Linked DNA regions of Homo sapiens. The protein of the gene in region 1 purifies or fractionates together with the protein of each later gene. This does not show direct contact. Each region holds a gene or a part of one and is shown in the gene's direction. Other genes may lie near its edges.

Evidence for each region. Proteins that work in one complex are often made in the same cells at the same time.
Region 2: the proteins of PRPF40B (region 1) and GNB5 purify together in Homo sapiens (affinity purification with mass spectrometry; 2 studies listed by BioGRID and IntAct, with this or other methods). This does not show direct contact.

Annotation. Positions count from the first base shown.
Region 1 is NC_000012.12:49,640,554-49,645,197, forward strand, and holds the end of PRPF40B (pre-mRNA-processing factor 40 homolog B), read left to right. Parts: exon of another isoform or gene 1-1,354; coding exon 1,355-1,471; exon of another isoform or gene 1,472-1,681; coding exon 1,682-1,819; exon of another isoform or gene 1,820-2,026; coding exon 2,027-2,122; exon of another isoform or gene 2,123-2,373; coding exon of another isoform or gene 2,374-2,376; coding exon 2,377-2,463; coding exon of another isoform or gene 2,464-2,467; exon of another isoform or gene 2,468-2,669; coding exon 2,670-2,844; exon of another isoform or gene 2,845-3,137; coding exon 3,138-3,199; exon of another isoform or gene 3,200-3,307; coding exon 3,308-3,451; coding exon of another isoform or gene 3,452-3,546; coding exon 3,547-3,639; 3' UTR 3,640-4,112; downstream 4,113-4,644. UniProt on the Homo sapiens protein: May be involved in pre-mRNA splicing.
Region 2 is NC_000015.10:52,181,358-52,188,396, reverse strand, and holds part of GNB5 (guanine nucleotide-binding protein subunit beta-5), read left to right. Parts: intron 1-3,702; 5' UTR 3,703-3,720; coding exon 3,721-3,846; intron 3,847-7,039. UniProt on the Homo sapiens protein: Enhances GTPase-activating protein (GAP) activity of regulator of G protein signaling (RGS) proteins, such as RGS7 and RGS9, hence involved in the termination of the signaling initiated by the G protein coupled receptors (GPCRs) by accelerating the GTP hydrolysis on the G-alpha subunits, thereby promoting their inactivation.

The DNA of each region.
Region 1 (4,644 bases):
GGTGGCATGGGGGCAGCACATGTTTTAGAGTCAGATTACTCCTGGTTGCTTATTGGCTCTGAGACCTCCGTAAGTTCCGTGTCTCTGAGCCTGTTTGCTCACCTGTAAATCAGGGATAATTCATAGGTAAGGTTGTGAGAATTAAATAACATCTGTAAAGTGTCTAATAGGTTCTCAATAAATGTTTATTCCTTTTCCTTTCTGCTGCATTTCAAGAGGTTTTGAAACAATGGAAAAGAGCAGAGGTAGTTAGCTTGATGAAGGGGAGAGCATGGTGGAAAGGATGTTCCAGGTTAGGTGAGGTGTCTGCTTGATGGAAGGAGCCAGTAACAAGGGTGACTTGGAGCTTTCAATTCCCTGAGAATGAATGCTGTGTTGATAAGGACTGTAGCAGGGTTGAGGAAGTACCCTTGGAAAGAAGAAAGAGGAGCACACCTCTGCCATCAGCAAAAAGGCCAGAGGAGGTGAGAGCTATGTGGAGGGAGAGAAAGGGAATCTGGCCTGTGCTTAACTGACGTGAGAGCCAGACTTTGAACTCCAGTGGCTTCATTTACCACTCATGTCATCTTGGGCCAACTGAGATCACTTTTCTAAGCCTCTGCTTCACTGGAATGTTGTGAGGCCTAAATGAGAAGCATAGAGCCTGGCCTGTGGACATGTTTTTAGTATTGGTGGGGAGCTGCACACCTGGTGGCCTCCGTTTCTCCCATGGACTAAGTCATCTGGGTGGGTGTGGTGCTTGAAAGCAGACACTTTGGGGATAGAGAGCCCCCCCAGGGTAGGGTTCTTGCCCAGCCGTATATCAGCTGTGAGACCTTGGGCAAGTGCTCTAGTTTCTCTGAACCTTGGTTTCTCCTTCTGTGTAAAATTAGGATACTAGGACCTATTCTTAAATGTAGAACCAAGAGGATTAAATGAGATAATGTGTGAAACACTCATCATGGTACCTGGTACATAGTAAGCACTCAATAAATAGACCCAAAGGGTAGGGGCCAGCAAATGTTGATTGAGAATGCATGGAAGCACTGCTGAGCAGCAGGAGGGCCCAGCTGGGGCCAGAGCTTTAAGCCAAAGGAACAAAAGTTAATTTTGAGAAACTCAGCATTAATCAGCAGTTGGGAGACATCTCCCAACCCCTTCAGCTCTGTGTGACATCCAAACCAAGGGTAGGCATGGGGGCTTAATTGTCAAGTGATGAGGACTTGGATAACTTGGTTTCTAATGCAGACCACAGTCCTGTGGATCTCTTCCAGAGGCAAGGGCCTTCTTGACCATCTGTAATGTGACCACTCTGCCTGCCAGCTTTGGCCTCAGGCACGTGGTGCCCCTGCTTCATGCACTGCTGTACCCACAGGACCGGGGCTTCTGCGTGGAGGTGAACACGGCCTTTGAGGACTTCGCCCACGTCATAAGCTTTGACAAGAGGGCTGCCGCACTGGACGCAGGCAACATCAAGCTGACCTTCAATAGTGTGAGGGGCTGGGCGGGGCGTGGGAAGTTCTCTAATTCATCTGTGTCTTGCTCCATTCCTTCTCACTCACTGTCCCACTGACTATATTCCCAATTCAGGGGATGGTGGTAGAAGCCCAGACCCTAACTTTCCACCTCCTAAGGTATGCCTGAGTGGGACCTGGCATCCACCCTCCTGGGTGACCCTGTTCCGTGTCCCTTCTTTCCTCAGCTGCTGGAGAAAGCAGAGGCACGGGAGAGGGAGCGGGAGAAGGAGGAGGCACGCAGGATGCGGCGCAGGGAAGCTGCCTTTCGAAGCATGCTGAGGCAGGCTGTGCCTGCTCTGGAGCTAGGCACTGCCTGGGAAGAGGTCAGGAGCGTAGCCTGGCCCCAAGCACCCCTCAAGCCTGAGGGCAGCGGTGCTTCACCACTGAGGGCCCACCCCAGTCACGTCACAGCCCTGGGCCAGCTCCAGTTCCCTTCCTTTCTCTGCCCCAGCCCTGCCCTGTGCTCATGGCGGTGTCCAGGCCAGGCTGAGTGGGGCCTAGTCTGATCAGCAGTGCTCTCCTCGTTCAAGGTCCGTGAGCGTTTTGTGTGTGACTCAGCCTTTGAGCAGATCACCCTGGAGTCGGAGCGGATCCGGCTCTTCCGGGAGTTCCTACAGGTGCTGGAGGTGAGGCAGGCTTGTCCTCTGGATCTGCCTCAGGCCCTTGAACTCATTAGACCAGTTCAACAGAGACCTCAGTGGCCTCCCTCTTACCCTTAGGGCACTCCTGGCCAGCTAAGGAAGGGGAGGCCTGAGGATCCCTGGGATAGGCAGAAGGCTCTAGTCTGAGAAAGGGAGGCAAAGCCAGATTTTAGGAAGTAGGATCCTTCCTGGGGCTAAGTCTGGTGCTGTCCTCACCCTTCTTCCTCTGCCTCTAGCAGACTGAATGCCAGCACCTCCACACCAAAGGCCGAAAGCATGGCAGGAAAGGCAAGAAGCACCATCACAAGCGTTCCCACTCACCCTCAGTGAGTAAGCGTGTAGAAGGGACATGGGGTGAAGCTGGGTTGTTTTGGGGAAATAAACACTTTGTTTTCCCCTTACAATATCTCCCTTGGAGGGAAGTTTGAGGATTCCTTTGGCCCTGGGTCCTCCTCCTCTCTCGAATTCCCAGACGAGGGCTTCTGGAGGGCAGAGAACCTCTGCACTGACATGTATCTGCTGATCTGCCCAGGGCTCTGAGTCAGAAGAAGAGGAGCTGCCCCCACCATCTCTCCGGCCCCCCAAGCGGAGGAGGCGGAACCCCTCAGAGTCAGGCTCTGAGCCCTCTTCCTCACTTGATTCAGTTGAAAGTGGGGGTGCTGCCCTTGGAGGACGGGGCTCCCCTTCCTCCCATCTTCTTGGAGCAGGTAAGCAGTTGCTGTGAGCGTAGAAGCTGGAGAACTGTTGTCCCAGACTGAGAGGATGCCCTCCACAAGCCCCAGCTCCTTTGAGGGTAGACTGGATTGGGAGGGCTGCACCTGTGGAAGTAGAAAGAACTTCCTCTACCTGCCCAAGCAAGAAGCTGGAGAAGGAAAACTGGACTTAGACTTCCTCAGAGCATGAGGTTCCTGCCTGTGAAGAATGAACAGAGGGGCTAGAACAAAGAAAAAGAGCCTGTCTTTCTCCTGTTGGGACTTAGTAGGGATTTTTCTATCTCTAGATCATGGCCTTCGGAAAGCCAAGAAACCAAAAAAGAAAACTAAGAAGAGAAGACACAAGTCGGTGAGTGAAGGAACTTCTACCTAAGCCCCTGCTATTTTGTGAGTTCTGTTCTACCTGCCTCCCAGGCTATCCACAGGAACTGAGGAGGTGGGCTCTGGACTCTTACAGAATAGTCCTGAGAGTGAGACAGACCCTGAGGAGAAAGCTGGCAAGGAGAGCGATGAGAAAGAACAAGAACAGGACAAGGACAGGGAGCTCCAACAGGCAGAGCTCCCTAACCGTTCCCCAGGCTTTGGAATCAAGAAGGAGAAGGTGAGGGGCAGGGGCCCTAGGCCAGTCAGCACGCTGGTCAAGCTTCCACGGCCCTTAGTGCAGGCTAAGGGTGAACTGTGCCTTTGCTCCAACAGACAGGCTGGGACACGTCAGAAAGTGAGCTGAGTGAGGGTGAGCTGGAGAGGCGGCGGCGGACACTCCTACAGCAGCTGGATGATCACCAGTGACCCAATGAGCTGTTCTCTGCCTCGGGTCTGTGTGAGGCCATGGCTCCTGGGCCACCCTCACCGTCTGCCTCAGACTTCTTCCTTAGTCTGGTCTGTGTCCACTTTTTCTAAAGTAACCCCACCCCCAGCACACCATTGTTGGCACCTCTCAAGGTTGCTCTTGGTGTTCAAGGGTCCCCTACTCCCTGGACTAGTGCAGTCCTTGCCCTCAGCCCCAGACCAGAGATGGGTGGTATATGCCATGTGGGGTGGGTGATGCCAGTAGATAAAAGTGTGAGAGAAGGGGTCTCCAGGGAAGAGTCACAGGCTGTTGGACGCAGCCTGGGTGGCAGAGGGCAGGGTCATCACCCTCTAGCATCAGTGCCTGCTCCTGCCTGCCCTGGCCCTGAGGCTCCACCACTTCTTCCTCCACCCAGGACCTAATGTACGTGTGTTTTGTTTTTTGTTTTTTAAATAACAATATTTATAACATGGCCAGTGACTCTTTTCCATGTGCTACTGGGGCAGGCTGGGGACTGGACACATGCCCAGCAGAGGGCACTAGTGTCTCATGGCAGGCCTGCTTCCCTTTGTGTGGCTAGAGCCCACCTAGCCGGTTCTCCTTTCCCCAGAGTTCTGATCTCATCTCCTCCAAAACAGATGCAGTGCCCCAAAGATTTCTTTTCTATCCCCATAGCCCAGGTCAGACTAAATGGCCACCCTAGCCCCCTAAGCTCAGAAAGAGGAGACAAAGTCAGGCCTGGTGCATCAAGCCTTTGTTGAGAGGGGGAGAGTCTGAGGTTTATGTACAGTAAGAGGAAAGGGAGGTGGTACATGTACAAAAAAGTGGGCCCCCACATTCCCTTCCAGGGGCAGAGGAGAAACGGGAAGGTAAGCAAATAGCCAAGACCACCATGCTCCTTGTCCCCTGCCAAAAAAAAAAAAAAAAAAAAAAAAACCGTAGCTGAGGAAAGAAGGTGAAGAGTTGGCACACCCTTTCTCCAGCCATCTGCAGAGAGTGGTTGG
Region 2 (7,039 bases), on another chromosome or scaffold:
GGGATTATAGGTGATTATCTTCTTCCTTATATCTTTTTTTCCCCCAAACTTTCTACAATGCATATGTATAATATTTACAGTTTAAAAATGCTTTAAATTTAGTTTGTAGCTTGCCCATGTTTAACCAGTGAGGTCTAAAATGCTAGCTATGTGATACGACTTAAGGCCCATAGGACTCAAAAATTGGAGTCTCCGTTAAAAAATGGTGTTTTCCAGTAATATGCAATGACGTGAAGATGAAAATGCTATTATATAAAGTAGTATATGGCATATAATTCCAATTTGTTAAAAAGTACACACATATATACTTATAAAGATACTAGAGGAAAACATAAAATGCCAACAGGTCAGTTGTTGGTGTAGGGCATGTGGGCGATTTACTTTCCCCTTTTTGTGTCCTTCTGTTTCCACTTATTTATTTATTTATTTTTAATTTTTAATTTTCTTTGAGATGGAGTCTCACTCTGTCACCCAGGCTGGAGTGCAGTGGCATGATCTCAGCTTACTGCAACATCTGCTTCCCGGCTTCAAGTAATTCTCCTGCCTCAGCCTCCCGAGTAGCTGGGATTACAGGTGCGCACCACAACGCCAGGCTAATTTTTGTATTTTTAGTAGAGATGAGGTTTCCTTATGTTGGCCAGGCTGGTCTCAAATTCCTGGCCTCAAGTGATCCACCCGCCTTGGCCTCCCAAAGTGCTGGGATTACAGGCATGAGCCACCACACCTGGCCCTGTTTCCAGTTATTTATAATGAACATTATCAGCATCTTTTATAATTTGAAAAAATTCAAAATTTAGTTTGAGAAGAAAAACATTGCCTCTATCTAGATATGGAATATCGGCTATCTTTTCAACTTGTCTTTCTCTCCCGTGCCTCCCAGCCATCCTTCTATTCCTCCTCCACTTGGTGCCATAGGTTCCTCTCGCCTTCCATTCCCATAGCTGCTCCTCTGTCCGCAGCTCATTTCCTCTTCTCCAGAACATAGCAATCTCTTAACCTAGTTTGTTTTCCTGCCGTCCCTTCTCTCTCTCTCTCTGACCTACTTCTGGAAGCACAAATGCTGGAATAATCCACGTGGATGACACTGCTCCCTTGCTTAACAGCCTGTGGCTCACCGTCCTAATGCTATTACTGGGAGTGTTCAGCCCAACCTTGTTACTGGCTGCCTTTACAGGGCTGGGGAGTGGGATGCAACAGTTACCAAGCCCCACCATGGGCCAGGCTCTGGAGGGCAGGCCCTTTTTTGTTAACTCACCTTTTGTGACAAAACCATGCAGCTTGACCATGCTAGCTTGGAAATAGGGTTCCAAAGTGTGTATTCATGCTACTTACAGACTCAGCTCTGCCGCTGACCTTGAACTTGTTTAATCCCCCTGCTTTTCCTCAGCTGTAACACAGATGTCCTGCCTCCCTCCCAGGGAGAGGCGAGGGCTGGGCACTCTGTGGCAGTTGGTAGCTGGTTTCCTTGCGAGCTGTTGTCCCTAAGGGATGCCCTGTACACCTTTGTTGCCCAGAGGTCTCGAACTGTGCTGACTGCCCCTTTGCTGTAAGAGCTCAGCCCAACTCATGAGCCCCCATTATCTCTCCAGCCCCAGGGTGGGCTCCACATGGCAGACGTTCCTCATCAGAAATGTCCCCAACTGTCACCTCCCCCATAAATGCATCCCTCTCAGATTTGACTCTGTTGAAATGTTCAGACCAGCGCCCCCAATTATCTTTATGTTCAGGGGTTCATTTCTTTGAATCTTGACGGGGCTCACTCTAGAACACCTACCAAATTGACAGGGCCACACTGGCTGCTCCCTTCCCCCTTAACCGCTTTGTCCTCATCTCCAGCAATGGCAACATAACCCCTCGGTCTCCCAAAGAAATCTAGGCCACAGCACCCACATCTCCCTCTCCTCAACTCCACATGCCAAATCCAGCTCCTTCTCTCTTTCCTAAGCATGGTCCAAGTCCATCCCACTACATTGCTTTGTGGGCCTAAAAGGAAGAGGCTGTAGCACAAACCAAGACTTAAGGAGTTTACTTGAGCCAAAGTGAGGACAGATTCCTGGAAGGCCCAGACCCAAGTAACCTTGGACATTATCTCTGTTTGGCCTTTGTTACAAGCAGTTTTTTTAAAAAGGCAAAAAAGAGGGACCGGGAGTGGGCTGATACAAAGTTGTTAGGAATTCTCATTAGTTTACAGAAATAACATTGATTAGCGACTGGTTATACATTGTTACACTACAGGGTGTGGGTTATAGTGTCCAGTGTGGCATTATTAGGTTATTTTTTAGCTACTTGTGCCAATGGCAAGCAGTTTCAAGAGATGAGGCCAGGTGTGGTGGCTCATGTCTGTAATCCCAGCACTTCGGGAGGCCGAGGTGGGTGGATAACTTGAGGTCAGGAGTTTGAGACCAGCCTGGCCAACATGGTGAAACCCTGCCTCTACTAAAAATACAAAAATTAGCCTGGCATGGTGTCTTATGCCTGTAATCCCAACTACTTGGGAGGCTGAGGCAGGAAAATCGCTTAAACCCAGGAGAACGAGGTTGCAGTGAGCCAAGATTGTGCCACTGCACTCCAGCCTGGGAGACAGAGAGATACTGTCCCAAATAATAATAATAATAATAATAATAATAATAATAATAATAATAAAAAGATGAATACACAGCTCAAAGTGGGGACTAGAACGTTATTGCTGTCTCATTTTCATGATTCTCTGGGCCTGATAATTTAAAAGGGCTTGCATTCCTCAGATAAAAGTTACTTTCTCACCTTTAGTCCATGACTTCCTCGCGTCTTGTCTGAACCGTTGCCATAGGCTCCTCTTATGCTTTCTTTGGCATCCCCAGCCTCACCCTGCCCCTACCCATGTCCCTCCTTCCCAAGGCAGCCACTGTTCCCGCTATTGCTGCCACTCAGGGCAGCATGACCTCGCTGGCACACTCCCTGTATTACCGACCTTGAGCTAAGTGCTTTACGCACTGACTCTTATCATTCTCTTGACAACCCCAGAAGGGTAGATTTTAAGATCTCCACTTGACAGATTAGCAAAACCAAGCTTCAGAGAGGTCAGCTAACTAGCCTCAGTGGTGGGCCGGGACCAGGCAGCCAGAGCCTGTCCCTGTAACCACTAGATGCTTGTGCTGCCTCCCTGCAGCGGCCTGGGCCTGTCTGTTGACTTCCTTGTGAACAGGCAGGGACCCTGGGTCTTTGGCTGTCAAATGTTTAATAAGTGAGTGCTTGCCTTGCACGGAACCCACACCACACTTACTCAGGCCCCTGGCTTTGGTTGGGGTCAGGCTCCATCATTTGCTGACCCTTATCTTTAAAAGTTCACCCTGAGGGGAGGAATGTTTTTAAAAGTTTTAAGTTATAGCATCCATTACAAAAACGTTTTCCATTGTGAAACCCCACAGAATTGATATTGTGCTGCAAGGATCAATCCTGCCTGACGCAGGTCTGCCAGCTGCCAAAAAACTGGTTAAACGTGTTAAGTTCAGAAAACCTATTGTCTGATGCTTTCTCACTGATTAAATGAGTTGTATTGACCCAGCATGTTGTAATAGTTGAAAGGTTATAAATTAACTGCATATACTCTATCCCACATGTAGACGTCTGAATAGCTACCACGGTACAAGCAAGAAGAGATTTTAGAAAGTTAAAACCATTGGCTTTTCTCACACCCCCTCCCTTCTTTTCACTTTTTTTCAGCTTTATCTTGGGTAAAAGATGTGTGATCAGACCTTTCTCGTTAATGTATTTGGCTCATGTGACAAATGTTTCAAACAACGAGCTCTGAGACCAGTTTTCAAGAAGTCTCAACAACTCAGCTACTGTTCAACATGTGCAGAAATTGTAAGTGCCACTTAAAAAAAATTCAGTTATCTGTCTTAAAACAGTCAAGCGAGGGTCCTGTGACAGATGAGATGCCATAGAATCAGCTTATATAACACACACTTTTCAGTATGCCTGGGCTTGGTGAGGCAGTATAGTACAGAGGTTCAGGGTGTGGACTCTGGTGTCTGACTGCCTGGGTCCAAATCCTATTGATGTTCCTAGTTATTGGTGTGCAAGGAGGTTCTCACCTCTCTCCTGAAGCCTGTTTTTCCCATCTGCAAATAGGAATGCTAATAGCACCTACATCATAAGAGTTTTATGATGATCAAATGATTTCATTTGATAACTTATTTTAAATAGTACCCAGCAAGGAAAGTACTCAATGAATGTTTTAGCTTCTATTATTTCTTAGGGCTAATACTTTTTTCTTCTGACTTCTACAAGTCTGCTTGGCAGGCAATCAAGCTAAAAGAGAAGCTGGCAAATAAACAGTCTAGGAGCATCTTTCCAAGGACCGGTCCCAGTGGTGTGTAGGTCCAGCTCTAATGAAGATGGAATCTCACAGGGCCTCAGTAGTGAGCAAAATTCAGCTCAGAAGTACTCCTTGGGCCTAAGCCTTCAACAAAGACTAGGAATGGAATACAAATCCTGGAATTTTTCAAAGTACACAAAATCAAGTCCTCACCAGAGGTGGCTGTGCACAGGCTTCAGATCTTGCAGCAAAAATGCCCACAGCATCACTGAAGCCCTAAGAATTAGTCCTATCTCTGAGAATTTGCAAAGCTGCGCTCAATAGTGCAGCTGAGCAGAGCCCCCACTTGGTGAAAAGTGGTAAAGCACTCCTCCTGAAAAGCCCAGTAGGAAATCCCCACACATTTAAAAAAACAACAACAAAATCCATAATACAACCAAAGAGAGGAAAGATGACTTTTACATTTTATCTAACTGAAAAAGAAAAGGCACTTTTTATCCTCCTGATTCCACTGTAACCCCTGACCATGATTACATTAAAAATTATTCCCTTAAAGCAAATAGCAAGTAAACAGCCCAGGGTGGCATAAAAAGGCTTTGATACAGCATAGCAATTTGGATATGTCTTCAGCCTAGGTGTAGTGGGCTTCTACCTGTAGTATATTTCTACAGTCTACGTTCTAACTTGGCCCTGCAAATTGTAGAACTGAGGACATTTAGTTCTTAAAAATAAACCTGCTTTCTGGGGGCCTTACCCCCCCCCCATTATTTATTAATCTAACTCTTCTGCTTTTTAAACAACTTCCTCTGCAGGTGGAATAAGCCCAAGAATCCCAGATTTTGAGTCCTCTGTGGCACACAGGTTCTCCCTAGCACAGGGGCCATGCCTGGAGATACTTTTCTAGGGAATAGTTGCCAGCTAGCGCTACTATTAGGTTGGGGCAAAAGTAATTGCGGTTTTTGCCATTGCTTTCAATTGAAGCAGTGGCACGATCTCGGCTCACTGCAACCTCTGACTCCAGGGTTCAAGTGATTCTCGTGCCTCAGCCTCCTGAGTAGCTGAGGTTACAGGCACAAACCACTATGCCTGGCTAATTTTTGTATTTTTAGTAGAGAGAGGGTTTCACCATGTTGGCCAGGCTGGTTTTGAACTCCTGACCTCAGGTGATACACTCACCTTGGCCTCCCAAAGTGTTGGGATTACAGGTGTGAACCACTGCGCCCGGCCCACACAATCTTACTTAATTCTCATAACAATTCTCATTGCTTTCAATTGAAAGCAATGGCAAAAACCACAATTACTTTAATACAATCTCTACTCTCTACTTGGGGGTTCCCAAATATTCAGACAGCATCATTCAGCTGAAGAGACATCCAGTGACTGACAGCTGGCCTTTCATCCAACTGTTTGGGATTATGTAGACACAGTCCCCATTGGGCCCTTTTTGTGAATAGGAGTGACCCTTTATCTCAACCACTGTGGAATGTAGCTGACCTCAACTTTTCTGATATCCAGCTTCCTCAGTGGGAGTTAACACCAAAATACAAGAAAGTACTTGGAAAACTGCCTAACCATTAAAAGTCTGATGGCCTCATCTCTAGATAGTTGACTCTCCAGGTTGGAGGCTGTTCGAGGTTTATTTTACACAAAGAACCCCCAGAAGAGGGCACACACCAGTGAGAAGTACCACGTGCCTCAGGTCTTCACAGCCAGGAGGACCTTGAACCACACACACATCCTGCAACGGTCCAAACAGAGCCAGCCTAAGGAGGTGATGAGATGAGGCTGCCTTGCCTGGGCCCCCTGAGATGGCCCTTGTGAGAAGAATCCCCCATGACCCAGTGTCTCATTTAAATTACCTCATGTGAACTGCTCAAGCGTATCAGGCAGCCTCAGTAATAATAACAGATGCATACTGTGTGCCACGCACTGCTCTCTCCGAATGCCATACAGAGTCTGAAGGAGGTGTTGTCCCCCATTCACAGATGAGGAGCCTGAGGCACCACAAGTAAATCCCTCAGGCCACAGAGCAGAGCCAGGATTTGCCCCCAGGCAGTCAGATCTAGATAGAGCCTGTGCTCTTAACCTTTTGCTTTACAAACTCTCAAACAGGTGTAATATTTTTGCTTTTATATATTCTTATCTTATACTTAATAATTGTATTTATATATTTATTCATTTATAAACATGTTTGTTATATGTTTATATTTTTAACATAGTTTATACAGATTTATATATTTTATATATTTTTTATACATCCATTTAATAAACTAGCATTAACTGAGCACCTACCATATGCAAGTACTATGCTAAATATCTAAATACTAAGGAACAGCGACAAGTAAACCTATTATTATACGGATGGGAACGGAAAAGAGAACTAGCAGTGAATAAGCATCTGCTATGTACGGAGAAGTCTGCTAAAGTCTTCACCCACACTATCTTACCTTTTTTTGTTTTGTTTTTGTTTTTGTTTTTGTTTTTTTTGAGTCTTGCTCTGTTGCCCAGGCTGGAGTGCAGTGGCACGATCTCGGCTCACTGCAACCTCTGATTCCAGGGTTCAAGCGATTCTCGTGCCTCAGCCTCCTGAGTAGCTGAGGTTACAGGCACGTACCACCACGCCCGACTAATTTTTGTATTTTTAGTAGAGAGAGGGTTTCATCATGTTGGCCAGGCTGGTTTCGAACTCCTGACCTCAGGTGATACACCCACCTTGGCCTCCCGAAGTGTTGGGATTAC